7 linked regions of the Homo sapiens genome follow. Changing the gene in region 2 together with the main gene of any one other region gives a genetic interaction. Each region holds a gene or a part of one and is shown on either strand. Other genes may lie near its edges.

The links.
Region 1: changes in MAP3K10 (region 2) and CYP11B2 together harm fitness more than expected from each alone (negative genetic interaction), as found in Homo sapiens cells (one large-scale study listed by BioGRID).
Region 3: changes in MAP3K10 (region 2) and SPHK2 together harm fitness more than expected from each alone (negative genetic interaction), as found in Homo sapiens cells (one large-scale study listed by BioGRID).
Region 4: changes in MAP3K10 (region 2) and DDR1 together harm fitness more than expected from each alone (negative genetic interaction), as found in Homo sapiens cells (one large-scale study listed by BioGRID).
Region 5: changes in MAP3K10 (region 2) and TPSAB1 together harm fitness more than expected from each alone (negative genetic interaction), as found in Homo sapiens cells (one large-scale study listed by BioGRID).
Region 6: changes in MAP3K10 (region 2) and SLC5A5 together harm fitness more than expected from each alone (negative genetic interaction), as found in Homo sapiens cells (one large-scale study listed by BioGRID).
Region 7: changes in MAP3K10 (region 2) and CYP4F12 together harm fitness more than expected from each alone (negative genetic interaction), as found in Homo sapiens cells (one large-scale study listed by BioGRID).

The regions. Positions count from the first base shown.
Region 1 is NC_000008.11:142,915,044-142,919,182, forward strand, and holds the start of CYP11B2 (cytochrome P450 11B2, mitochondrial precursor), read right to left. Parts: upstream 2,801-4,139; 5' UTR 2,798-2,800; coding exon 2,559-2,797; intron 2,172-2,558; coding exon 2,016-2,171; intron 203-2,015; coding exon 3-202; intron 1-2. UniProt on the Homo sapiens protein: A cytochrome P450 monooxygenase that catalyzes the biosynthesis of aldosterone, the main mineralocorticoid in the human body responsible for salt and water homeostasis, thus involved in blood pressure regulation, arterial hypertension, and the development of heart failure.
Region 2 is NC_000019.10:40,211,926-40,215,425, reverse strand, and holds part of MAP3K10 (mitogen-activated protein kinase kinase kinase 10), read right to left. Parts: intron 2,622-3,500; coding exon 2,450-2,621; intron 2,351-2,449; coding exon 2,238-2,350; intron 2,038-2,237; coding exon of another isoform or gene 1,910-2,037; coding exon 1,205-1,909; intron 777-1,204; coding exon of another isoform or gene 760-776; exon of another isoform or gene 525-759; intron 457-524; coding exon 134-456; 3' UTR 1-133. UniProt on the Homo sapiens protein: Activates the JUN N-terminal pathway.
Region 3 is NC_000019.10:48,626,006-48,629,505, forward strand, and holds part of SPHK2 (sphingosine kinase 2), read left to right. Parts: coding exon 1-357; intron 358-1,686; coding exon 1,687-1,836; intron 1,837-1,969; coding exon 1,970-2,064; intron 2,065-2,156; coding exon 2,157-2,272; intron 2,273-2,675; coding exon 2,676-3,500. UniProt on the Homo sapiens protein: Catalyzes the phosphorylation of sphingosine to form sphingosine-1-phosphate (SPP), a lipid mediator with both intra- and extracellular functions. Also acts on D-erythro-dihydrosphingosine, D-erythro-sphingosine and L-threo-dihydrosphingosine.
Region 4 is NC_000006.12:30,891,019-30,894,518, reverse strand, and holds part of DDR1 (epithelial discoidin domain-containing receptor 1 isoform 2 precursor), read right to left. Parts: coding exon 3,399-3,500; intron 3,140-3,398; coding exon 3,040-3,139; intron 2,518-3,039; coding exon 2,331-2,517; intron 2,224-2,330; coding exon 1,977-2,223; intron 1,452-1,976; coding exon 1,356-1,451; intron 1,248-1,355; coding exon 1,096-1,247; intron 14-1,095; coding exon 1-13. UniProt on the Homo sapiens protein: Tyrosine kinase that functions as a cell surface receptor for fibrillar collagen and regulates cell attachment to the extracellular matrix, remodeling of the extracellular matrix, cell migration, differentiation, survival and cell proliferation.
Region 5 is NC_000016.10:1,239,555-1,243,054, forward strand, and holds TPSAB1 (tryptase alpha/beta-1 precursor), read left to right. Parts: upstream 1-1,150; 5' UTR 1,151-1,174; intron 1,175-1,384; coding exon 1,385-1,445; intron 1,446-1,598; coding exon 1,599-1,770; intron 1,771-1,879; coding exon 1,880-2,145; intron 2,146-2,272; coding exon 2,273-2,436; intron 2,437-2,521; coding exon 2,522-2,686; 3' UTR 2,687-3,000; downstream 3,001-3,500. UniProt on the Homo sapiens protein: Tryptase is the major neutral protease present in mast cells and is secreted upon the coupled activation-degranulation response of this cell type. May play a role in innate immunity.
Region 6 is NC_000019.10:17,870,651-17,874,744, forward strand, and holds the start of SLC5A5 (sodium/iodide cotransporter), read left to right. Parts: upstream 1-1,294; 5' UTR 1,295-1,669; coding exon 1,670-2,026; intron 2,027-3,107; exon of another isoform or gene 3,108-3,299; intron 3,300-3,487; coding exon 3,488-3,553; intron 3,554-3,843; coding exon 3,844-3,895; intron 3,896-4,013; coding exon 4,014-4,081; intron 4,082-4,094. UniProt on the Homo sapiens protein: Sodium:iodide symporter that mediates the transport of iodide into the thyroid gland. Can also mediate the transport of chlorate, thiocynate, nitrate and selenocynate.
Region 7 is NC_000019.10:15,676,087-15,679,586, forward strand, and holds part of CYP4F12 (cytochrome P450 4F12), read left to right. Parts: intron 1-2,174; coding exon 2,175-2,319; intron 2,320-3,500. UniProt on the Homo sapiens protein: A cytochrome P450 monooxygenase involved in the metabolism of endogenous polyunsaturated fatty acids (PUFAs).

The sequences.
Region 1 (4,139 bases), on a different chromosome or scaffold from region 2:
ACCTTCTATGGTGTAGTGGAAGATGCTGGGCTGGACGTCCAGGGTCAGGCTCCCCCGGGCGTTCTGCAGCACCTTCTTCTTCAGGGCCTGGGAGAAGTCCCTGGCCACTGCATCCACCATCGGGAGGAACCTCTGCACGGCCTTGGGCGACAGCACATCTGGGTTCAGCCGCAATCGGTTGAAGCGCCATTCAGGCCCATTCCTACAGAGGCCAGGGCAGAGCTTGTGAGGCCGCCCCAGCAAGACACAGGCCCTGACCCGTATCCCATCCTCCTTGTCCCCAAGGGGAATCGGCCTGCAGGGAGCTGACTGGGGGCCCTGGTAGAAGCTGCCTGTTTGTGTTCGAGCTGCAGCCTTTTCTCAGAGCGGCCTCCAGGTGCTGGGCAAAGGCCACTCAGGTCTAAGCAGGGATGAGATGGTAGCTTCTGCCCACAGGTGCTGACAGGGTAACTGAGGTCATTCCCGGGACCTGGCGACCCAAGTCTGGCACCACCTCACCCATGCGGGCCCTCCCTGTAGTAACAGGGTAGGGCTTTTCTCCAAGAAAGGAGGTGACCCCTGTTGTCAAGCTTTGCCCACCTCACCCACACAGTGTCCTGAGGGGAGAGCCCCTGGCTGCCCTCTCCTCCCCACCCTTCCCCGCCCTGGGCACAGTGCCTCTGGGGCAGCAGCCTCTGCCTGTCTCTGTGAAGCATCTATATCTTCTGCAGGACAGAAACCAAGCTTTGTGCTTCATGCCATCCTCACCCACAGCCAGAGTGCGTGGGGGCTCCATGGATGCCCCCAGGGAATGGTGGGGAGGAATTTCCCCTGTCAGCCACATTCCTGCAAAACTCCTTTATTTATGTCCAGCTGGCTGCTGTGAGCTGTTGACAGTGATGACAGGCAGAAGATGCACATGCACACGTGCGCCCATGCAAGACCTCAACACCATGTGTGAAGAGACGCATGTGCATGTGTGCACAAACACTACACCCATGCCGGCACCTGCACATGCACACACACAGACACTTGTGCACACACACCACACATACATTCACACACAGACACGTGCACACACTACACATGTGCAAATGCAGGTACAGAGAAACACACAGCATGTGCACAGATGCAAGACACACACACATACAGGAGCGCTCCCCTTCCTTCCATTATGCGCACCCAGCCTCCTGGACCTGCCTTCCTGGGTCCTGACTCTCTCCCAGATGTCATCTATAGGCCAGCCTCAGTGAAGGCCCCGACCCACGGGTGCCCTTTTACCTAAACCCCACTATTCCCAATAGCGTTCCCTTCCTACCATGGAGTGGGGGCTGTCACCACTGTGACATCCTCATCCAGTCCTTCCCCCGTCCTAATGACAACATCCCTGCAGGTGACCGACTCCAAGCATCAGCCTCTCCCTGCCCACCTGACCAGGCGCCACCCTCTCCACGGGCCAGGAAACATCCTCCCCAGTGCCATCAACCGCCCCACCTTGTGCCTTGCTTCTGAGAACAACGGAACCACCAGCCACCTGCGTCCCCACCTGCCTCCTGCCCCGGACTGTCCCCATCAGGAAGGTTTGCCAGGACTGCAGGGACCCTGAGCGCCCTGAGGGAGGCTGTGGCCCCGGCGAACACCAGGCTCAGCACTCAGCCTGTGACCTGGGCCAGTGGAAGTCCCCTTCTCAGGGCCTCAGTTTTCTGACCTATGGGAAGGACAGTCCCCAGACCGCAAGAGAAAGCAGCCGCCGAGGTTGGTGCAGAGCGGGTTCTCACTACACAGAAGGGCTCATTGCTCTGCGTCTTCTCTGCAGAGGTGCCCGTGCCCATTTCTCCACCACCGCCCTGCTTCCCCAACCCACAGTGCAGACGCGACCCCACAGGATGGCCGTCCTCTGGGCCGGGTGCTCACCCTCACTGCCCACCACAGGGGCCCAGGGCAGATGTGCTTTTGGGTCCTACCTCTCTCGCCTCCCCCCTACACCCAGGCTGCCCACCCTGCTCCCAGCTCTCAGCTCCCAACTCGCCGCTTACAACAAGAACACGCCACATTTGTGCCCACGATGTTGTCTGTAGGCCACCCAGGGCTCCAGGATCATCCTGCAGGGATGCAGGCTGTCCACCTGTTGCAGCTTCTCCACATCCTCCGGCAGCATCACACACACCATGCGTGGTCCTCCCAAGTTGTACCTGTGGGGCCAAGCAGGAGGCCCTGCTGGACGGGGTCATGTCCCTCGTGGCCCCACCCTGCAGTCCCAATCCAAAGTGTCTCCTGTCCACCCTCCCTGCTCCTGGATTAGCGGCTTCACAGCTAAAGCCCTCCTGCTGGCTCCCTGGAACCTTTCAACTTTAGTGCTTCTGAGTCCTGCCCTCTCTGCAGTGAGCTGGGGTTTTCTCTGCACTATCCCCTGCCCTGGCAGCACCACAGACCAGCATGTGCTGCACTCCTTCCCCATCCTCCAAAGGATGCAGAGTGCCGGGACCTGCTGGGAATGGCAGTGCTGAGTGCCTGGCAGGGTCCTGGGCAGCAGGGGCAGGGATCTGGGTGTTCCCAGCGAGGGCCAGGGAGGGCTTTACCTGAAAATGGGCCCCAGCTCCTGGAAGGTCTGGTGCATCTCCAGGTGCAGGTGCTCATAACCCTGCTCCCTCCAGATCTGCAGCAGCCTCAGCCACCTGTTGCCTGGATGCTGGGGCATGGCTTCAAACGGCAGCACCGTCCTAGGGGCCCGAGCGGCTCTAGTGCCCAGTGCCCGTGCCCTTTGCAGGGACAGCCAGGGCGCTGCCACGCACACCTCTGCCTTTGCCCTGAGTGCCATTCCAATGCTCCCTCCACCCTGTTCAGCCCAAATCCTTTTATCTCACCCAGGAACCTGCTCTGGAAACATATCACGTCATGGGAGAACTGGCTCTGGACCTGCCTGAGACTCTCAGAGCGAAGGTCAAGGCTGGAGGCCCCCAGCCAAAGGTAGATGAAGGAGAAGTCAGGTGCCTAATTCCCCATTGCTGCAAGTCCTGCTGGTCTGAGGATGCTGAGAAAAGGCGTGGGGTCTGGACTGGGGGTCCATGCTGGTGGAAGGTGGTGGGACCTGGCCTCTCCTTTCTCCAGGGCTGAGAGGAGTAAAATGGATGGGGACTTTATCTTATCGTGAGATGAGAGGGAGCCTTGGATTCTTTTAATAGACTTTATTTTTATACCACAGATTTAGTTCATTGCAAAATTGATCAAAAACTGCAGAAAATGTCCACGTACCCCCTGCCCTGACACAGGTACACCCTCCACCACAGGAGCGCACTGGTTCCATGTGAGGAATCTCGATACGTTGTTATCAACCAGGGTCCTGGAGTCACATGGGGTCTCCTCCTGGTGGTCAACATGCTGTGGGTTTTGACAAATGTATGTAATTTGTATCCCTCCTTGCAGGATCCTAGGAGTATTTTCACTGTCTTAAAAAGAGGAAAAGAAAACCTGTGCTCTGCCTGCTCATCCCTCCTGCCCCAGTCCCTGACATCTCCGATCTTTTTATCATCACCATGCTTTGGCCTTTTCCAAAATGTTGTATAGTTGGAATGACACCGTTTGTAGCCTTTTCAAAGTGACGTATCTCAGTTAGTAATATGCGTTTAAGGTTCCTCCATTTCTTTTCGTGGCTTGATAGCTAATTTCCTTTTTTTTTTTTTTTTCTAGAGGCTGGGTCTCACTTCTTTAGTGGTTGCCCTAGAGTTTGCAATATACGCTTAAAACTCATCTCTCCAACTCCACCTTCATATAACACTATACAGCTTCAGAGGTAATGCAAGCACTTTATAATCATCAGATATTCTTAGGCTGGGCATAGTGGCTCATGTCTGTCATCCCAGCACTTTGGGAGGCTGATGCAGGTGGATCACCTGAGGTCAGGAGTTCGAGACCAGCCTGGCCAACATGGCAAAACCCTGTCTCTACTAAAAATACAAAATTAGCCAGGTGTGGTGGCGCATGCCTGTAATCTCGGCTTCTCAGCAGGCTGAGTCAAGATGAATGCTTGAATCAAGGAGGCGGAGGTTGCAGTGAGTTGAGATCATCCCACTGCACTCCAACCTGGGCAGCAAAGCAAGACTCCATCTCAAAATAAATAAATAATAAGATATTTTTAATTCCACTCACCCATCCCTTGCATC
Region 2 (3,500 bases):
CCCCTCCCTCCTTCCCCAATAAATAGAGTGAACATCCTGCCCAGGGCCTCCCCCACCTTGTGGCATGGCGGGCTGGGGCAGGGCCTGGGGCGCTACATTCATGGCTGCCCAGGCGGGCGGTGGTGGGCAGGCCTTAGTGGGAGCCGTGGGCCCCGCACAGGGGCACTGTGCTGTCTTGGTTCTGCCCCTCCATGTCCATGTCCAGCAGTGTGGGCTGCACGCTGGGGGGCCCAGGGCTCTCCGGAGTGTCTGGCCTGCTGGGAGGCGAGATGGTGAGTGTCCGGCCGAAGGAGACCAGTTTCCAGGGGTCCAAGCGGGGGCGACTGGCAGCCGGCCGAGGTCTCGGGGCAAAGGTCAGGGTGGTGGGGCGGCCTGGGAACTCAGGGGGCCGGCGGCGGGCTGGGAACAGGGCCTGGGGGTCGGGCAGGCGGGGGAAGTCCAGAAGGTCACGAGGGCCTGGTAAGAGAGGTTCAGAGGAGGTGAGTGGGGTGGGGCAGAGGGTGGCATTAAAAAGCCCAGAGCTGTTACATGAAAAGCACAAGTTCTGGTTTCTCTCGAGAAATCCGTGGATCTTGCTGCATCCAGTTTCCATCTGTAGTGTGGCAGTGCTGGGACCTTGACCTAGACTGGGACCACTCCCAGCTGCTTGCTCCTCTGGGTGGACCCTGGCATGTTCCTCAACCTTCTGGAACTGCTGCTTAGCGGCAGCCTCGGGGGCCAAAGCCCTGGTCTTCCCGACTCTCCTGCACTGGGCTAAGCTCAGGCATGGCTTAGCTCTGAAGGGGGATAAAAATGGTGCCTCACCACGCAGGTGAGGAGCAAATAGAATAACCATAACTTAAAACAAGCAGCACAGTGCCTGACGTGGGTACTTAATAACACTGCTATGGCCGCATCTCCCACCCAGTTAACAGATGGAGGAGAACAGTGTCTAGGCTGTGTAAGAATTGGCGATGGTCATGCTGGTCACAACCGCTATAGGCACCTGCCTGGCCTTATAGGCATCAGTTTGCCGCCTGTGTCTCAGTCCCCTGGAGACCCCCGATGCCTCCAGGAGTGAGCGGTAAAGGGACACAGACCCTCCCTCCTCCACAAGAAGCAGGAGGTGGCTGCCTGAGGGGTCGTGGCTGGGCTGGACTTGCGACCCTGGCAGAGGAGGAAAGAAGGGGTTTTCTGTGACCTGGGTGCAGGGCGCCTCACTCACCAGGGCCATGGCCCGCGGGCTCGGGCGGCCCCCGCTGCCCCAGCGCCCCGTCCGATGGCGTCCGCCGGTGCCCGCGGCTCACAGCGCATGCAGCCGTGACGTGGGTGGGCGTGAGCGACTGGCGGGGGTCCTTCTTGAAGCTCTCCAGCTCCAGGTCCACCAGGGGGTTGGTGCTGGGCGAGGGCGTGGGTGTGGGCGCGGGCGGGGAGGGTGGTGGGGAGGGCGCGGCCGGTGCGGCCTCGTCACTGTCAGAGCGCAGCAGTGAACGCGTGGAGTTGCAGTCGGACACGGACGACAGCGACACGAGGGTGGCCGAGGGCGCCAGGCCCAGGCCGGGGCCCACGTCTTCGCGGCGGCCGTGGGGACGCGCGGGTGGGCTGAGGCCCCGCGGGAAGCGGCCGGCGCGGGGAAAGAAGAGGCCGTCGAGCCAGCGCCGCTGCTCCTCACCGTCGGCCGCGCGCGCCTCGGCCACGTCGGCGCCCAGGCCCACAGCCCCCAGCAGCGTGGCGCAGCCTAGCAGCGCCAGGTCGCAGCGCCGCCGGGCGCCGTGTCCCCACCGAGCGGGGGGCGCGGACGGCGTCGGCTCCCACGGCGCCCGCGCCCCCGGGGAGGGCTCGGCAGGCAGTGGCACTGAGAGGTAGGACGGGGTCGAGTAGGGGGAAGGGGGCACGCTGCTGCCTCCATCCTCTGCCTCCGCGAACTCCTCTGCAACCGGAGAGGGCCATCACTCCGCTGCAGGGCTGGCCAGGGCCCCACGGGGACTTGTGCCAAGGGACAGCCCCCGATGACCCCTCCAACAGCAAGACCAAGACCCACGAGCATCGTTCTTGAATCTGTCTCCAGGAGAAGCCTCAGAGAAGGGTGGTCCCTGCCCCTGGAAATGACCCCCCACGCCCCAGGGGCCACCATCTCCCTTCCCAGGAAGGCCTTCCACTCACTGGCCCAGTGAAACCTGGTCTCTTCGCTCAGCCCCAGGAGGCTCACCCCTTTGGCCAGGGAACCCCCACCCCCTTACAAGAACCCAGGCTCTTACCCATCTCATTGAGGCTGGCAAAGCCAGGGGCGATGGGTGTGTGTTTGGGGGACTTGCCCAGGTTGGGGGCACTTGATGACCACTGTTTGCTTCCTTCCCCCAGCCCCTTCAGCCTGCGGGGTCCAGGGAGAGATGGAGACCTCAGTCCTGTGGCCTGGAGCCTGGGAGCTGGGGCTTGGGCACAGGGTGGGCATGACCACACCACACCTCACCTCTCCTCTCCTCCCACCCGCTCCTTCTGCAGGGTGGAGCTGGGCCCCCACGTTCGTCCCTTCTTCTTGCCCCCGACCAGTTCTTCCTTCTTTGGGGGCCCACCGCGGCTCCATGTCCCACTTCCTCCACTGCTGCTGCCACTGCTGCTGCCACCACAGTCCACGGGAGTCACTGGGTCCAGAGAAGCCACTTGGTTACTGGGTGGAGGATCTGTCCCCACTGGGCTCCCAGCCTCCAGTGCCCCCAGCTCAGGCCCACCCTCCGCCTGGGAGTCCAAGGGCTCTTTTGAACTCCAGTCATGACCCTCCCTGCTATATATCTCCCCATAGCCCCCTACTGCTGTCAGGACAAGGTTCCAGCTCCTCCGCCTGGCACTGAAGGCCATGAGCGGTTCCCTGCCAACTCCTCCAGCCTCCCCTCCTCTTCACAGCCTAACCCTTCACCATTCATTCTGGCGGGCTGCCTGCGCTTCTGGTCTCCAGCTCTGGGTAGTTAGTTCCCTGGGGGTCAGCTGCCTTCATCTCTGTACCTGCAATGCTCTGGACCTATCTGGTGCCAGTGTTTGCTGCCATGGTATGGGTATTTGTCTCTGTGTCCCCTGCAGGACTGACCTCCTGGGCCTGGTACAAAGCAGGTGCCCAGACAGAGGGCAGGGGGGCTGTGGGTGGGGACAGTGCTGGGGTGAATGAGGTGTTGGAACTTGGGAGCTAGCCTTTCACCCTTCAACCCACCAGGAAACTCCGATGACCGTGTCTCTGCCATATAGCCCCGACTGTGGACATCTGTCCCTTCCAAGTCCCCCACCCTGGCCTGGCCTCCATCATCTCACTGCTTTCTCCACCTTTATTTCTTACAGCAGCCAGAGGGAAAAAGGTCAATTTGATTCCCTCAGTGCCTTGCTCGCATGGCTCTGGGGGCTGCCCCAGGGCAGTTAAAAGAAAATCCATACCAGGCCAGGTGCGGTGGCTCTTGCCTGGAATCCCAGCACTTTGGGAGGCCCAGGCAGAAGAATCACTTGAGGTCAGGAGTTGGAGACCAGCCTGGCCAACA
Region 3 (3,500 bases), 8.4 Mb from region 2:
ATGGCGAGTTTGGCTCCTACCCAGCCCGAGGCCCACGCTTTGCCCTCACCCTTACATCGCAGGCCCTGCACATACAGCGGCTGCGCCCCAAACCTGAAGCCAGGCCCCGGGGTGGCCTGGTCCCGTTGGCCGAGGTCTCAGGCTGCTGCACCCTGCGAAGCCGCAGCCCCTCAGACTCAGCGGCCTACTTCTGCATCTACACCTACCCTCGGGGCCGGCGCGGGGCCCGGCGCAGAGCCACTCGCACCTTCCGGGCAGATGGGGCCGCCACCTACGAAGAGAACCGTGCCGAGGCCCAGCGCTGGGCCACTGCCCTCACCTGTCTGCTCCGAGGACTGCCACTGCCCGGGGATGGGGGTGAGGTGCTGGGCAGCTGCTCTATCCTGGAGCCACCTTGGTGTCTCTGCAGAATTTCCTCCATAGGCAGCTGTGTCTTTATTTTTCTGTGTGTCTGGGTGATGTATCTCTCTGGATCCGTTAGGAGTGATACACAGGGATGGGCTACAGAAGGAACAAAAAGACAAGAGGACCGGATGTGGTGGCTCATGTCTGTAATCCTAGCAATTTGGGAGGCTGAGGCGGGTGGATCACCTGAGGTCAGGAGTTCGAGACCAGCCTGGCTAACATGGTGAAACCCCATGTCTACTAAAAATACAAAAAATTAGCCGGGTGTGGTGCTGCGCACCTGTAATCCCAGCTACAGGAGGGTGAGGCAGGAGAATCGCTTGAACCCAGGAGGCAGAGGTTGCAGTGAGCTGAGATCGTGCCATTGCACTCCAGCTTGGGCAACAAGAGCAAAACTCTGTCTCCAAAAAAAAAAAAAAAAAAAAAAAAAGCACAGGCAGAGGTCGCGTGCAGTGGCTCATGCCTATAATCCCAGCACTTTGGGAAGCCAAGGCAGGCAGATCACCTGAGGTCGGGAGTTCGAGACCAGCCTGGCCAACATGGCGAAACCCTGTCTCTATTAAAAATACAAAAATTAGCCGGGCATGGTGACGGATGCCTGTAATTCCAGCTACTCGGGAGGCTGAGGCAGGAGAATCACTTGAACCCGGGAGGCAGAGGCTGCAGTGAGCCGAGATTGCACCATTGCACTCCATCCTGGGCGACAAGACCGATACTCCATCACAAAAAGCAAAACAAAACAAAAACGCAGGCAGAGAAAAGTGATTTACATCTGCTGTTCTCTTGCTAGATTTATGTTTCTGTCTCCTATCCTCTTCCCCTTTGCATGGGTCTTGACCACAGGTGAGTCACCCAGGGTGGTGAGAGCAGCAGCCTGAGACAGGACCAGGTACCACCCAGAGTGATGGGTGCCAACAGAGGTCTAGGGCTTCCCTGGAGTTCAGAGGTGGCATCTAATCCTGCCTGGGGCCCCTAAGGGCTGGAAGTAACCTAATCCTGGGTAATAGGTGTTTGGGGTGAGGAAAGTGGGAACCACAGCTCTGAACTACAGCTCCTCCCACACATGGGGACAAAGGGCATTTGGTTTCACACCTAAGCCCTGCCTTTGTCTCAGCAGCTAGGAGTTGGGGCAGGGCTGCATACCTAGGCCTGGCCACATGAGAGCCAGCAGGTCCCAGGGGCCAGCCCTCCACCAATTCCGTTGGGGGCTGATGAAGGGACTGTTTCCAAGGTGGGGGGCCTGGGTCACTGGCCTCTGCAGACCCTAACCTCTCTCCACAGAGATCACCCCTGACCTGCTACCTCGGCCGCCCCGGTTGCTTCTATTGGTCAATCCCTTTGGGGGTCGGGGCCTGGCCTGGCAGTGGTGTAAGAACCACGTGCTTCCCATGATCTCTGAAGCTGGGCTGTCCTTCAACCTCATCCAGACAGGTAAGGGCCAGTGAGAATGGGAGCTGGGGGCTGGGACAGCTGAGTCCTAAGGGAGCAAAGTGGTGGGTGGGACTCCTGGGTCTATGGGGCTGGGGTGGGACAGCCTGCCTAACAGCCCGGTATCCCACTTCAGAACGACAGAACCACGCCCGGGAGCTGGTCCAGGGGCTGAGCCTGAGTGAGTGGGATGGCATCGTCACGGTCTCGGGAGACGGGCTGCTCCATGAGGTAGAGCAGGAGCACCCTGCCCCTAGCCCTGGGCCCTGGGGGACTATAGAGACTGCCACCAGGACCCAGGCTTCTGGTCTCCCACCCTCCAGGTGCTGAACGGGCTCCTAGATCGCCCTGACTGGGAGGAAGCTGTGAAGATGCCTGTGGGCATCCTCCCCTGCGGCTCGGGCAACGCGCTGGCCGGAGCAGTGAACCAGCACGGGGGGTAGGTTGAGGATACCACGAAGGGAGGGATGAGCCCCTCCTGGGGTGATAGGGACCCCTATATCTCCCACTCAGCCAAACCCACAGTCAGTCAAGTAAATCAGCCTGCCTGTGGGATGCTCACCCCCAGCTCCTGGACATTTTTGCCTGCCTGCTTCCCAGCTGTATCCCGAGCGCCCAGAACTCTGCCTGGCATGGGAGGCACTCAGTGAATTGTAGGGAGCAAATGAAAGATGACCAGGAACCTGGCCCCGTAAGGAGTCGCCTGGAGGTGGCCCCACGGCTGTGGTGGGCCTGGGCCATGGCCTTCGTGGTCTCATTGCCAGCTGCTTTCCTACCTGTCTCTTTCCCCAACCCCTGTTTGCTCCTTCCTTCTGTGTGTCCGTCCATCTCCGGCTGTGAAGATTTGAGCCAGCCCTGGGCCTCGACCTGTTGCTCAACTGCTCACTGTTGCTGTGCCGGGGTGGTGGCCACCCACTGGACCTGCTCTCCGTGACGCTGGCCTCGGGCTCCCGCTGTTTCTCCTTCCTGTCTGTGGCCTGGGGCTTCGTGTCAGATGTGGATATCCAGAGCGAGCGCTTCAGGGCCTTGGGCAGTGCCCGCTTCACACTGGGCACGGTGCTGGGCCTCGCCACACTGCACACCTACCGCGGACGCCTCTCCTACCTCCCCGCCACTGTGGAACCTGCCTCGCCCACCCCTGCCCATAGCCTGCCTCGTGCCAAGTCGGAGCTGACCCTAACCCCAGACCCAGCCCCGCCCATGGCCCACTCACCCCTGCATCGTTCTGTGTCTGACCTGCCTCTTCCCCTGCCCCAGCCTGCCCTGGCCTCTCCTGGCTCGCCAGAACCCCTGCCCATCCTGTCCCTCAACGGTGGGGGCCCAGAGCTGGCTGGGGACTGGGGTGGGGCTGGGGATGCTCCGCTGTCCCCGGACCCACTGCTGTCTTCACCTCCTGGCTCTCCCAAGGCAGCTCTACACTCACCCGTCTCCGAAGGGGCCCCCGTAATTCCCCCATCCTCTGGGCTCCCACTTCCCACCCCTGATGCCCGGGTAGGGGCCTCCACCTGCGGCCCGCCCGACCACCTGCTGCCTCCGCTGGGCACCCCGCTGCCCCCAGACTGGGTGACGCTGGAGGGGGACTTTGTGCTCATGTTGGCCATCTCGCCCAGCCACCTAGGCGCTGACCTGGTGGCAGCTCCGCATGCGCGCTTCGACGACGGCCTGGT
Region 4 (3,500 bases), on a different chromosome or scaffold from region 2:
CCCTCCGTTCAGCCTTGTCATAGGGATGGGAGGCATCACCCGTGTTGCTCAGCACACACGGCCTGGCCCTCTGCTGTGTCCATCCCTGCGTTCCCTCCCTCAGCCCTCACAAGAGCCCTACAGCTGTGGATACTATCAGCACCATCTTACAGGCAGAGAAAGTGAAGCTCAAGAGCATGGAGGTAACTTCCCTGTCCCACAATGAGATTCTAACCCTCATCTGCCCAGTCCATAACTATCAACCGTTTTTTTTTTGTTTGTTTGTTTTTTTGAGATGGAATTTTGCTCTTGTCGCCCAGGCTGAAGTGAAATGGCATGATCTCAGCTCACTGCAACCTTCGCCTCCCAGGTTCAAGAGATTCATGCCTCAGCCTCCTGAGTAGCTGGGATTACAGGCATCAGCCACCATGCCTGGCTAATTTTGTATTCTTAGTAGAGATGGGATTTCACCATGTTGGTCAGGCTGGTCTCGAACTCTTGACCTCAGGTGATCCTCCCGCCTCGGCCTCCCAAAGTGCTAGGATTACAGGCATGAGCCACCGTGTCCAGTCATCAACCTTAATGTACATTACTGCCACTGGACTCCAGCCGGAAGACGTGGCTTGGGGTGTGCCAGACGTCTTCCCTTTGCCCCTCCAACCCCACTCTCTGCCTGTCTCTACCCTGCTTCTGCCCCAAGGCTGACCAGTGTACACTGCACCAACAGGCCTGGTTTGGGTTAGCCAGAGAGGAGCCCAGCAGGAGTTTGGGGCAGAAAGTGAGGTCAGGGCATCTATTCTCCCAGGCCCTCCCTGAGGGGTAGATACGGGCCAGCTGCATCCCAGGACCAAAGTCTACTGCCCCTGTCAAGGTGCCCTCTCCACAGGCTCTCTCCTCTGGGTCGTGGTATTTGCTCCTCTCCGCTGAGCAGACCCAGAGCTGGGGAGCAGCCCTCCCTGTGAGCCCCATACCCTCTTTGACATGGTGTAAGTGGTCTCTTTACTAAGCCCTCCTCTTGGGATGCTAGTGGGCTGTGCCCTGCAGGTCCCACTGGACGCTGGCTCGTGCTGGGGCCTGGCCTCCCCCCGCCACTCCACATGCCACGGCTGTGCCCACCTTGCTGAGGAGCCTGCGCCAGTGCAGCCGCCAGAGCATGAGGGCAATGATGAGCAGCAGGAGCAGGATGATGGCCACCAGGCAGCCGATGAGGATGGCGGTCGGGCTCCCCTCGGCCTTGGCCACGGGCTGCTGGCCTCTGGGCTCCAGCTCTGGTGGAGGCAGCAGGGTCAGCACCACAGGAGGGTCCCACCCTAGCCGAGGGGGAGGCCCAGGGAGAAGGGTGCAGAGGGTCCACACGCCCACCCAAGATTGCTCACCCAAGCTGCTGAAGTTGGTGGGAGGTGGGCCAGGCGGCCACCAGGGGGCTGGCGGGAAGGTGCCTCCCAGTGCCGGAGAGGAATTGTTCACCACATCTGGGGAGAAGGAACAAAAAGAAAGGAGGGAGGTAAATGAGGAGGAGACCCAAGGGAGGCAGAGGCAGTGGACTGTTGTGCAAAGGAGCAGAAGCATGGGTGATTCTCAATAGGCAACCACTGACCAGTGGGGGCTGGGGGAGCAGGGTCCTGGAACACCCAGCTGTGGTGGGTGTTAACCCTATAGTTGCTGGATTGTGGGGAGGTGGAGGACAGGTATCTGGAGGCTTAGAGAAGAGGCTATTTCTCAACTAATACAGAAGTATTTCAATATTTTAACAACCAGTACTGTCATACTGGCTCAATAATAGTCACGGGCAAGGGGCTTACAAAGGAAAGATGGATACGCAGAGAACAAGAGGCAGAAAGGGGCTCAAGTTATTTGGGGCACCCCTAATTGAGAAGTTTCGGTGGGTGATGGGTAGATATAATGCAAGGAATGAGTATTTTAGGGACACTGCAGGGTTAGGAATGAAATCAGTTGTCAATTTCAGGGACTGGAGACTGGGCTACTCCAGGGCTTACCAGAGATGAAGGAGATTTCGCTGAAGAGTAACCAGGGCCCCGCAAAGAGGAAGCGGCACTGCAGAAAGCGAGCCACACGGCCGCCAAGGGGCACTGAGACAGCCCGGGCTCTGGGGTCCCCCAGGTTGCCCCCTAGGTTGTGGCGCATGGGCTCCCCCTCCCAGGCCATGGCAGGGCCACGCCGGAAGCGACATTCCACCCCGCCAGGCAGACGGGCTCCCAGCGTGTGCATGTTGTTACAGTGGACCTGGGGGGAAGGGAAGAGGGCACAGGGTCAAGGCTAGGAGTGGTGGGGGCACCCCAACGGCACCCTGCATGGCTTCAGAGCCCTCCTCGAGAGCCGGACTCACTCACCTGCATAGCCTGGAAGGCCCTCAGCCGGTCAAACTCAAACTCCATCTCCACATAGCCACTGGAGAAGCTGTGGTTGCTCCATCCCACATAGTCATAGCCTGGCCAGACCCGCAGCTCCTGACTCTTCCTAAAGTCATCCAGCCCCACCACACCATCTGCCAGCTGGCCCAGACCCCCATACTGCAGTCTGGAGAAGAGGGGACCAAGGAAGAGGAGGTTGGAAGGGAAGAGGGTCTTGACATCCAGGCATTCTGCTCCGCCACCCTCCGGCACAGTGGCATGGCCAGCCTGGCTCCCATCCACTAGTCCCATTCCCATCCCACCTCACACTCATGCAGCTGGCCCTTCTCCTCTCTCCACCCCACCCCAGCACTACAGGTACCTTGCAGGTCACATCCAGCACAAAGGCACCACCTCTAAGGGGCACCATTTCAATCTATGATGTGTATATTTATTGCAGCAATTTCCAACAATGTGTGTTAGCAAAGGGGTGCCTTTTTCATACAGTGTCATACGGGCTAGTGGTCACCCTAGTGCTACCCTTTGAGGCCCCACCTAACCCATCCCTCTTCTCAGCTCTTCCATCTCACTCCCCACCCTACTTACCAGCCCCCCTACACACACACACTCTCACACACACACACACACACACACACACACAGTCCTCCCTCCCACCCCAAACTCCATATCCTGCAGGGGCCTTTCTTACCCGCCCACGGTATGTCCGTCATAGGTGGAGTCGTTGAGGTACACGGCCTCAGATAAATACATTGTCTGCCCCACAGGGGCGGTGTAAGACAGGAGTCCATCTGGGGCAGGGTGAGAGGATGGGGGTCAGAGGCACTAAGGCTCCATCCCCCATCCCTGCATCAGGCCTGGGCAGGTTTCAGGTCCCTTCTTGTATCTCTCCACTGGCTCATTGGCATGGAGGAGACAATGCTGGCTAGCCCCCTCCTCAGAGTGACAGCTTCCCAGCAGGAGAAGGGATCCTGGATGCCCATTCTCCACACTCCCCACCCTCCAGTCCCCTGCTCAGGAAACAGATTCCCAGGAAGCTGAGCCACTCACCCCTCCAGAGGCAGCCATAGAGCTCTACCCGCAGACAGACGCTCATGACCCGGTCAGCCCGGGGGTAGAAGCGAACCAGTCGGGCAACCATGGGGGGCCCAA
Region 5 (3,500 bases), on a different chromosome or scaffold from region 2:
TGCAGCCCGGAAGGAGTCCAGATGGATATGGCCCCGCAGTGCAGAGTCAGCCCCAAACCAGGCTGGTCCCAGGCAGGGTGGGGGCAGGAGGAGCCCCGGAGTGGCCCTGTGTTGGGGGTCGGGGGGCAGGCAGGGGGTCCTGGGGCTCAGAAGCGGAGGAGGTGGGCTGGAGGCCCCAGTGACCAACAGGCCCAGGGGAGTCGGGAGGTGGGGTGGACGGACCTGCAGGGACAGTGTCAGCGCTGAATGGGATGGAGAGCACAGGGAGCTGGGGCCGGGGATGAGACCATGGGGAGCTGGGGCTGGGGCTGGGACTAGTCCATGGGGAGCTGGGGCTGAAGTTGGGGGTGAGTCCATGGGGAGCTGGGCTGGGCCTCCTGGGGTTGCACCTGCACTCCTCTCTGCTCTTCCCTCTGCGTATGAAGCTCAGATCCCATGATAAGGAGGCACCTGCAGACCAGGGGACCTGCACGGACAGCCCCAGAGGTGGACATTGAGGACTCGTAGGAGGACTTGGGTCTCATACGGCGGGTGGGGAGCAGGGCCCCTTCCTGGCTGAGGACACTTGGTGCTGTCCCCTCTCAAGGCTGTTTCCCCATCTGACAAAGGGGTCTCACGTGAGCCCCCAACCAAGTGAGTCGAGGAGGGCTGGCCCCACCCCCGTGGATTCGGAGTCCGTAGGAGGGGTGTCACCCGTCATGTCCCCACCCCGTGGGCACCTTCCCGTCTCTTGGAGCGTGGCCCATGGACATGAGTTCCTCACCCGTGTCCCTCTTGGGGAAACAGGTTTCAGGAGCGACGGGTCTTGTAGCCTGGGGCAGCCAGGCCACCTGGGTGCAGCAATGCCTGAAGGCCTCCTGGCACCGAGACAGGGGCAGGAGCAGATCCCACCAGCGGGAAGGTGGTGGGTTCCAGTGCTGGGATCCACCAGCTGACAGGTGGAGCTGCCAGTCTCCAGTGCTCAGCCCTCAGCGGGGCCTGCCTGGCAGCCCCACACACAGAGGGCATCGGGGTGGCGGGGGCACGTGTTACACGGGGGCCCTGGGTCTGAGTCATCCACTTCCTCCGAGTCTGGATGGGAGGACCCAGCGCCCCTCCTCCGCCCCCTCCTGATCTGGAAGGATAAATGGGGAGGGGAGAGCCCACTGGGTAGAAGGAACAGGGAGCGGCCAGGGTAAGTCCCCACTCTCAGAGACCCTGACATCAGCGTCACCTGGAGCAGAGTGGCCCAGCCTCAGACTCAGAGCACCAAGACCCAGGCCCGCAGGCCTGGACCCACCCCGGTCCCCCCGTCCCAGCTCCATTCTTCACCCCACAATCTGTAGCCCCCAGCCCTGCCCTGTGAGGCCCGGCCAGGCCCACGATGCTCCTCCTTGCTCCCCAGATGCTGAATCTGCTGCTGCTGGCGCTGCCCGTCCTGGCGAGCCGCGCCTACGCGGCCCCTGGTGAGTCCCAGCCGGGGTCCACCCTGCCCCTCACCACATTCCACAGGTCAGGGCCTGGGTGGGTTCTGGGGAGGTCGGGCTGGCCCCCACACAGGGAAGGGCTGGGCCCAGGCCTGGGGCTGCTTCCTGGTCCTGACCTGGCACCTGCCCCAGCCCCAGGCCAGGCCCTGCAGCGAGTGGGCATCGTCGGGGGTCAGGAGGCCCCCAGGAGCAAGTGGCCCTGGCAGGTGAGCCTGAGAGTCCACGGCCCATACTGGATGCACTTCTGCGGGGGCTCCCTCATCCACCCCCAGTGGGTGCTGACCGCAGCGCACTGCGTGGGACCGTGAGTCTCCCGGGGCCTGGAGGGGTGGGGAAGGGCTGGATGTGAGCCCTGGCTCCCGGGTGCTCCTGGGGGCTGCCCAGGGCCCTGAGTGGGATCCTCCGCTGCCCAGGGACGTCAAGGATCTGGCCGCCCTCAGGGTGCAACTGCGGGAGCAGCACCTCTACTACCAGGACCAGCTGCTGCCGGTCAGCAGGATCATCGTGCACCCACAGTTCTACACCGCCCAGATCGGAGCGGACATCGCCCTGCTGGAGCTGGAGGAGCCGGTGAACGTCTCCAGCCACGTCCACACGGTCACCCTGCCCCCTGCCTCAGAGACCTTCCCCCCGGGGATGCCGTGCTGGGTCACTGGCTGGGGCGATGTGGACAATGATGGTGGGTCTGGGGACAGTGGAGGTGGGGCCAGGGTCTTAGCCACAGCCCAGCCCCTGGGCTCCCTCTGGGCTCCAGGTGGGGGTTGCCCGGCCCCCTCCTGAGGCTGCACCCTCTTCCCCACCTGCAGAGCGCCTCCCACCGCCATTTCCTCTGAAGCAGGTGAAGGTCCCCATAATGGAAAACCACATTTGTGACGCAAAATACCACCTTGGCGCCTACACGGGAGACGACGTCCGCATCGTCCGTGACGACATGCTGTGTGCCGGGAACACCCGGAGGGACTCATGCCAGGTGGGCCCCGCCTGTCCCCCGCCCCCCGCCCCCCAACCCCCACTCCCAGGCCTGTTCGGCGAGCGCTGACCTCTGACCTTCCCAGGGCGACTCCGGAGGGCCCCTGGTGTGCAAGGTGAATGGCACCTGGCTGCAGGCGGGCGTGGTCAGCTGGGGCGAGGGCTGTGCCCAGCCCAACCGGCCTGGCATCTACACCCGTGTCACCTACTACTTGGACTGGATCCACCACTATGTCCCCAAAAAGCCGTGAGTCAGGCCTGGGTTGGCCACCTGGGTCACTGGAGGACCAACCCCTGCTGTCCAAAACACCACTGCTTCCTACCCAGGTGGCGACTGCCCCCCACACCTTCCCTGCCCCGTCCTGAGTGCCCCTTCCTGTCCTAAGCCCCCTGCTCTCTTCTGAGCCCCTTCCCCTGTCCTGAGGACCCTTCCCTATCCTGAGCCCCCTTCCCTGTCCTAAGCCTGACGCCTGCACCGGGCCCTCCAGCCCTCCCCTGCCCAGATAGCTGGTGGTGGGCGCTAATCCTCCTGAGTGCTGGACCTCATTAAAGTGCATGGAAATCACTGGTGTGCATCGCTGTGTTTCTGGTTGTGGATGTCACTGGGAGAGAAGGGGTCCAGGTGTGCTGAGGACACCTGCCACAGTGTGAGGTCCTAGCCCTCAAGGCACAGCCAGTCACCGTGGGACGGGGCCTCCTGGGCAGCCCTGGTCCCCGAGGCTGGCTTCTCCCCACACGATGCATCCAGCATTCGGGTCACACAGAGCCACTCGGGCAACTCAGTTGATTATAAAGGACAGCCAGGTCCCTGCAACCGGGTCAAGACAGAGAATGGTCGCCGGGAGCCCCAGGGCTGCCCATCATGAGCCCCTACCCCACGCTTCCCACGAGCTCTTCTCCCGGCCCCTCTGTCCACTGCTTGTGCTTTGCCTAGTTGTTTGCTTTGAGACGGGATCTCGCTGTGTCATCCAGGCTGAAGTGCAGTGGTGTGATCAGGGCTCACTGCAGCCTTAACTCCTGGGCTCAAGCGATCCTCCCATCTTGGCCTCCCATATAGCTGGGCCA
Region 6 (4,094 bases), about 22 Mb from region 2:
GCATGTGCCACCACGCCTCGCTAATATTTGTATTTTTCATACAGACAAGATCTCACTATGTTGCTCAGGGTAGTCTCGAATTCTGGGACTCAAATGATCCTCCCACTTCAGCCTCCCAAAGTGCTGGGATTACAGGCATAAGCCATCATGCCCGGCCTCTGACGCTGTTTCTTTCAACCCCCAGGATTTCAGATTCCACCAGCTTATGGAGAAGGGAACCAAGTTTGAGATGCGTGATTGCCCAGAAAGTTGGAGGCTGAGCTGAGACTTGAACCCAGAGACCAGAACCTCCAGAGGTCAAAGTCCTCCTGGGTCCCCCAGAGAAGGGCCCTGAGATGACAGCTCGTTGGTCCTCATGGAAGCGTGACCCCCCCAGTAGACTTTCTCCCACACCCAACCTTGGTTTCCTCATCTATATGATAGGGACAAGCCAGACTCTACCTCCCTGGTGGTCATGGTCTCCGCTTATTCGGGTTCATAACCTTAAAGGCCCCTCGCACCACCTCAGTGAGCCATTTATGCCTGGCACAGGGCCAACTCTCAGTGCATATCTGCAAAGGAACCAATGAATGAATGAATGAAGTGACAAATGAATAAAGGAATAAATGAATGAGGCACTTATCATGTACCAGGCTTTCGTTACCACGTCCCATTTATTCCTCTGAGGCAGGGTCTATTTTATCCTTGTTACAGATGGGGAAACTAAGGCCCAGGGAGGAGCAAAGTCTTCCCCAAGTATGTACCCACTCAGAACTTGAGCTCTGAATGTCTCCCACCCAGCTTAGCCCAAGAGCGGGGTTCAGTGATGCCCACCCCCTAAGGCTCTAGAGAAAGGGGGTAGGCCCACATGCCAGTTTGGGGGTGGTAAAGCCAGGTAAGTTTTCTTTATGGGTCCCCTGAAACCCTGAAAGTGAACCCCAGTCCTGCATGAAAGTGAGCTCCCCATAGCTCAAGGTATTCAAGCACAATACGGCTTTGAGTGCTGAAGCAGGCTGTGCAGGCTTGGATAGTGACATGCCCTCTCTGAGCCTCAATTTCCCCACCTGTCAACAGCAGACAGTGACAGCTGTGATCAGGGGATCACAGTGCATGGGGATGGGTGGGTGCATGGGGATGGAGGGGCATTTGGGAGCCCTCCCCGATACCACCCCCTGCAGCCACCCAGATAGCCTGTCCTGGCCTGTCTGTCCCAGTCCAGGGCTGAAAGGGTGCGGGTCCTGCCCGCCCCTAGGTCTGGAGGCGGAGTCGCGGTGACCCGGGAGCCCAATAAATCTGCAACCCACAATCACGAGCTGCTCCCGTAAGCCCCAAGGCGACCTCCAGCTGTCAGCGCTGAGCACAGCGCCCAGGGAGAGGGACAGACAGCCGGCTGCATGGGACAGCGGAACCCAGAGTGAGAGGGGAGGTGGCAGGACAGACAGACAGCAGGGGCGGACGCAGAGACAGACAGCGGGGACAGGGAGGCCGACACGGACATCGACAGCCCATAGATTCCTAACCCAGGGAGCCCCGGCCCCTCTCGCCGCTTCCCACCCCAGACGGAGCGGGGACAGGCTGCCGAGCATCCTCCCACCCGCCCTCCCCGTCCTGCCTCCTCGGCCCCTGCCAGCTTCCCCCGCTTGAGCACGCAGGGCGTCCGAGGACGCGCTGGGCCTCCGCACCCGCCCTCATGGAGGCCGTGGAGACCGGGGAACGGCCCACCTTCGGAGCCTGGGACTACGGGGTCTTTGCCCTCATGCTCCTGGTGTCCACTGGCATCGGGCTGTGGGTCGGGCTGGCTCGGGGCGGGCAGCGCAGCGCTGAGGACTTCTTCACCGGGGGCCGGCGCCTGGCGGCCCTGCCCGTGGGCCTGTCGCTGTCTGCCAGCTTCATGTCGGCCGTGCAGGTGCTGGGCGTGCCGTCGGAGGCCTATCGCTATGGCCTCAAGTTCCTCTGGATGTGCCTGGGCCAGCTTCTGAACTCGGTCCTCACCGCCCTGCTCTTCATGCCCGTCTTCTACCGCCTGGGCCTCACCAGCACCTACGAGGTACCGGACAGAGGCCCGGGGGTAGGACCTGCCCCACTGGCAGTGCTGGGACCCCGTGTGGGGGAGGCGCTGGGGCTTTGGGCCGCTGTACAGGAGGACGCGGATGGCACCTCGGTGCTTTAACGGAAGGGGCCCCTAGGCAGACACGTGGGGAGGGTTCTAGGAAGAGGCCCCAGGCGCCCGGCGAGGGGCAGGAAGGAGGAAGAGAGAGCCTGGCGTCCTGCTCCTTCGGTGGAAGCGCGCGCGGGGCGGGGCCCGGCTCGACCAGGTGTGTCCTCACGGGTGGACACACACCTGCCCCCCACCTGCCCGGGCGTGCAGACCCACGTGTGCGCGCTAGAGGGGACTGCTGACGGCTCCGGGGTTCGAAACCTGGCTTCACTGCTTTCTTGTATCTTGGGCAAGGGGCGTGCCTCTCTGTTTGGGTTTCCCAGCTGTCCAATGGGCGAATTACAGGACCTCCCTCCAGGGGAGAGGGTAAAGCGATTAAAATCGTGACCGGGGCCCGGTGCGGTGGCTCACGCCTGTAATCCCAGCACTTTGGGAGGCCAAAGCATGCAGATCACCTGAGGTCAGGAGTTCAAGACCAGCCTGGCCAACATGGCGAAACCCCGTCTCTACTAAAAATACAAAAATTAGCCGGATGTGGTGGTGGGCACCTGTAATCCCAGCTACTTGGGAGGCTAAGACAGGAGAATTGCTTGAACCCGGGAGGTTGCAGTGAGCCGATATCGCGTCACTGCACTCCAGCCTGGGCGACAGAGCGAGACTCTTGTCTCAAAGGAAAAAAAAATATTGTGGCAGGGCGCAGTGGCTCACGCCTGTAATCCCAGCACTTTGGGAGGCCGAGGTGGGTGGATCACGAGGTCAGGAGTTCAAGACCAGCCTGGCTAACATGGTGAAACCCCGTCTTTACTAAAAATACAAAAATTAGCCGGGCATGGTCGCGCGCGCCTGTAATCCCAGCTACTCAGGAGGCTGAGGCAGAAGAATTGCTTGAACCTGGGAGGCGGAGGTTGCAGTGAGCCGAGATCGTGCCAGTGCACCCTAGCCTGGGCGACAGAGCGAGACTCCGTCCCCCCTCCCCCCCAAAAAAATCGTGACAGGTATATCCTAGGCGGCCAACACCATTGGCCCGGGGCACTGTCTACACTGTGCGCTTGCGGGCCACGTCGGTGTCTGCTGAGCGGTGGCTGCTCCAGGAGCCCGCGCCCGTCAGGCGCAAGTGGGAGGGCGCGTGCACACGCATGGACCAGTCCTCCAGGTCCACGGGGTACGCACAGGCACGGGATGGCACCTGTGCACGGGTGTGTGCGTGCGGCGGGGCCCCCACGTGCAAGAATCTGGCGGGCGCGGTTGGCTTCCGGAGGGAGGGGCCCACCTAGAGAGCAGACCAGGGACCCGAGAGGCCTCGGCTCCTGGGTAAGGACTGTCCAGGTGACCTCGAGTCCCTCCTTGCAGTACCTGGAGATGCGCTTCAGCCGCGCAGTGCGGCTCTGCGGGACTTTGCAGTACATTGTAGCCACGGTGAGTGGCCTCGGCCCCGCCCTCCGCTCAGGGCCCCGAGAGCGTCAGCCTTCACTAGCCCGGCCCCCACCATTCAAGACCCCGCCCAGACCCCGCCCCCCATGCTCCCGTTCTGACCCCGCCCCCATCAGTCCCCTCCCACACCACAGCCGGCCTGACCCCGCCTGCACTCTGGAAGACCCGGCCTATCTGCCCCGCCCATATTCTGGGACCACCCTTCTGCCTCCTCTCCCCATCCCCAACTCGCCCAGACGCCCTCCCTGCTCACCCGCCCCACACTCTGTCTACAGATGCTGTACACCGGCATCGTAATCTACGCACCGGCCCTCATCCTGAACCAAGGTGTGACTCTGGGAGATTAGGGAAGCATGTCTGGGAAGAGAAAGGGAGGGAGAGGAGAACCCAAGACTAAGTTTGCGCCCCGCCCAGGGGCCTAACAGGGGGACCTCTTTTTGCATAGTGACCGGGCTGGACATCTGGGCGTCGCTCCTGTCCACCGGAATTATCTGCACCTTCTACACGGCTGTGGTGAGTGGCCCTG
Region 7 (3,500 bases), about 25 Mb from region 2:
CAGCAGAAGAGAGAGCAAGTTCTTCCTTTCCTCTGCCTTTTGTCCTGTTCATGCCCTCAATGGATTGGATGGGGTCTGGCGTCTCAGGGTGGGTGGACTTCCAGAGGGGTGGGACTTCCAGTAGGGGTTCAGGGAGCTGTGTATTGATGGTGGCTGGGGTCTGGGAACCCAGAGAACCAAGGGAGACGGCTCACTCATTCCTCTCCTCACTTACTCATTCCTGTGCCCATTCACTCATTCCTCTCCTCACTCACTCATTCTAATACCAACTCACTCATTCCTCTCCTCACTCACTCATTCCTCTCCTCACTCACTCATTCCTGTGCCCATTCACTCATTCCTCTCCTCACTCACTCATTCCTCTCCTCATTCAGTCATTCCTGTCCTCACTCACTCATTCCTTTTCTCACTCATTCATTCCTCTCCTCACCCACTCATTCCTCTGCCCACTCACTCATTCATATCCTCACTCACTCATTCCTCTACCCACACTCATTCCTCTCCTCACTAATTCCAATACCAACTCACTCATTCCTCTCCTCACTTACTCATTCCTCTATCCATTCACTCATTCCTCTCCTCACTCACTCATTCCTCTGCTCACTTAGTCATTCCTCTCCTCACTCAACTCATTCCTCACTCACTCATTCCTCTCCTCACTCACTCATTCCCCTCCTCACTCACTCATTTCTCTCCTCACTCATTCATTCCTTTACCCACTCACTCATTCCTCTACCCACTCACTCATTCCTCTCCTCACTCATTCCCTTCCTCCCATTCCTTTACCCACTCACTCATTCCTCTCCTCACTCACTCATTCCTCTCCTCACTTACTCATTCCTCTCCCCACTCACTCATTCCTCTCCTCACTCACTCATTCCTGTGCCCATTCACTCATTCCTCTCCTCACTCACTCATTCCAATACCAACTCACTCATTCCTCTCCTCACTCACTCATTCCTCCCCTCATTCAGTCATTCCTGTCCTCACTCACTCATTCCTCTCCTCACTCACTCATTCCTCTGCTCACTCACTCATTCATATCCTCACTCACTCATTCCTCTACCCACACTCATTCCTCTCCTCACTAATTCCAATACCAACTCACTCATTCCTCTCCTCACTTACTCATTCCTCTACCCATTCACTCATTCCTCTCCTCACTCACTCATTCCTCTGCTCACTTAGTCATTCCTCTCCTCACTCAACTCATTCCTCTGCTCACTTAGTCATTCCTCTCCTCACTCAACTCATTCCTCACTCACTCATTCCTGTCCTCACTCACTCATTCCTCTGCTCACTCTCTCATTCCCCTCCTCACTCACTCATTTCTCTCCTCACTCATTCATTCCTTTACCCACTCACTCATTCCTCTACCCACTCACTCATTCCTCTCCTCACTCATTCCCCTCCTCCCATTCCTTTACCCACTCACTCATTCCTCTCCTCACTCGCTCATTCCTCTCCTCACTCACTCGTTCCTCTCCTCACTCGCTCATTCCTCTCCTCACTCACTCGTTCCTCTCCTCACTCACTCATTCCTCTCCTCACTTACTCATTCCTCTCCTCACTCACTCATTCCTCTCCTCACTCACTCATTCCTCTCCTCCCTCACTTATTCCTCTACCCACACACTCATTCCTCTCCTCACTCACTCATTCCTCTACCCATGCACTCATTCTTCTCCTCACTCATTCCTTCCTCTCCTCACTCACTCATTCTTCTGCTCGCTCACTCACTCATTCCTCTGCTCACTCTTATTCTTCTCCTCACTCATTCCTCTCCTCACTCACTCATTCCTCTCCTCACTCACTCATTCCTCTACCCATGCACTCATTCCTCTCCTTACTCACTCATTCCTCTCCTCACTCACTCATTCCTCTCCTCACTCACTCATTCCTCTCCTCACTCACTCATTCCTCTCCTCACTCACTCCTTCCTCTCCACACTCACTCATTCCTCTCCTCACTCACTCATTCCTTTCCTCACTCACTCATTCCTCTGCACTACTATTTCCATCCTGTTTACCTTCAAATGCTAATCTCTTCTCAAACACCCTCACAGACACACACAGCAATAATGTTTGACTGGCTATCTGGGCATCCCTTAGCCCAGTCTAGTGGACACCTAAAATTAACCATCACAGGAAGTGACAGCCCTTGACTTGCTTTCAGATCACTCCTACAGAGGAGGGCTTGAAGAACTCGACCCAGATGTCGGCCACCTATTCCCAGGGCTTTACGGTATGGCTGGGTCCCATCATCCCCTTCATCGTTTTATGCCACCCTGACACCATCCGGTCTATCACCAATGCCTCAGGTACCCATGCAGAGCTTGTGGTGGTGGGTGCCAGACCAAGCTTCTGTGTGGTCTCTGCAGTACCCACGTCCCTCCTTGAGTACTCGTGCCCCTCATTGAGACTTCCTTCTCAATGTCTTCTCCCTCCATTGCCATCTGCTCCCTGTCTTGGTGTTCTGGGCACCACTGGGGCTCCAAGAGGCCTCAATTCAGGGCCCTTTCTGGAAGGAACCCCCATGCTTAAGGACACGGGTCTAGACAGAGACATTTCCAGCCTCATAGGGTCAGGAATGGGCAAGAGAGAGATGGGTATGACAACACAGAGAACTGGGTGTCTGCTGGGGCAGGCTGGAATGTTTCCTGGAGGAAGAGTTGTTGGAGCTATGTCTAGACCAATAAGTAGGATTTTTTAAGTGTGGGGCAGGATGATGCAGTGGGCATCATTGGTATTTGGGGTCCCAGCCAGTCCTTGCACCAGCCTTGCCCATCCCTCAGTCCAAAGCGGTAGGAGGATTTGTGGCTGGTGGAGAATCTGGGCTGCTATTTATGTGACATCCACCTATGATGGGTCAGTTCCTTCTACCTCATCCTATCACTCATCCACCCTAAGTTTCCTGCTCTCCTCCTATGGGCTTCAGGATTCTCCAATAGGAGAACCCACACCAGCTGCTTGACCTCCCCTTGCTCTCTGCTCTTCTCATCCTTGGACACACCAGGCTGAGCTAGGGAAGTGGCAGCATCCCACAAAATCTATGGCTCTGACCCCCAAATCCTTAGTGACTCTGTGCAGGTCACCAGCTCTCTGGCTGCTGAGGTCTCTTTCAGTTGTGAGTGATGGAAACTCAACTTCGTGTGCTCTAAGCAAATAAAGAGAGTCAAAGGAGTGTAAATTTCAGGGAGGGTGGTCTTCAGGCATGGCTGAATCCAGGTGTCAATGAACATTATCAGGGATCTGTCTCCTTTTCTTAATTTCACCATTTCTCTGCATCACTTTTTCTTTTAAGGCAGCCGTTCTCTTATCTGTCAACCATGGGTCCTAGCAGCTCAGTTCTTGTCCGAAAGCTCACCTTACCCCCAGGGGTCCCATAAATAGCCGCCTATAGTTTCAATATTATACCTGGTTATATCTTTTCTGTTTAACCTGGGATCATATGGAGAAGTCATCATGTGTGTGGCTCAGCTGTGGTCGAGGACACTTGGGG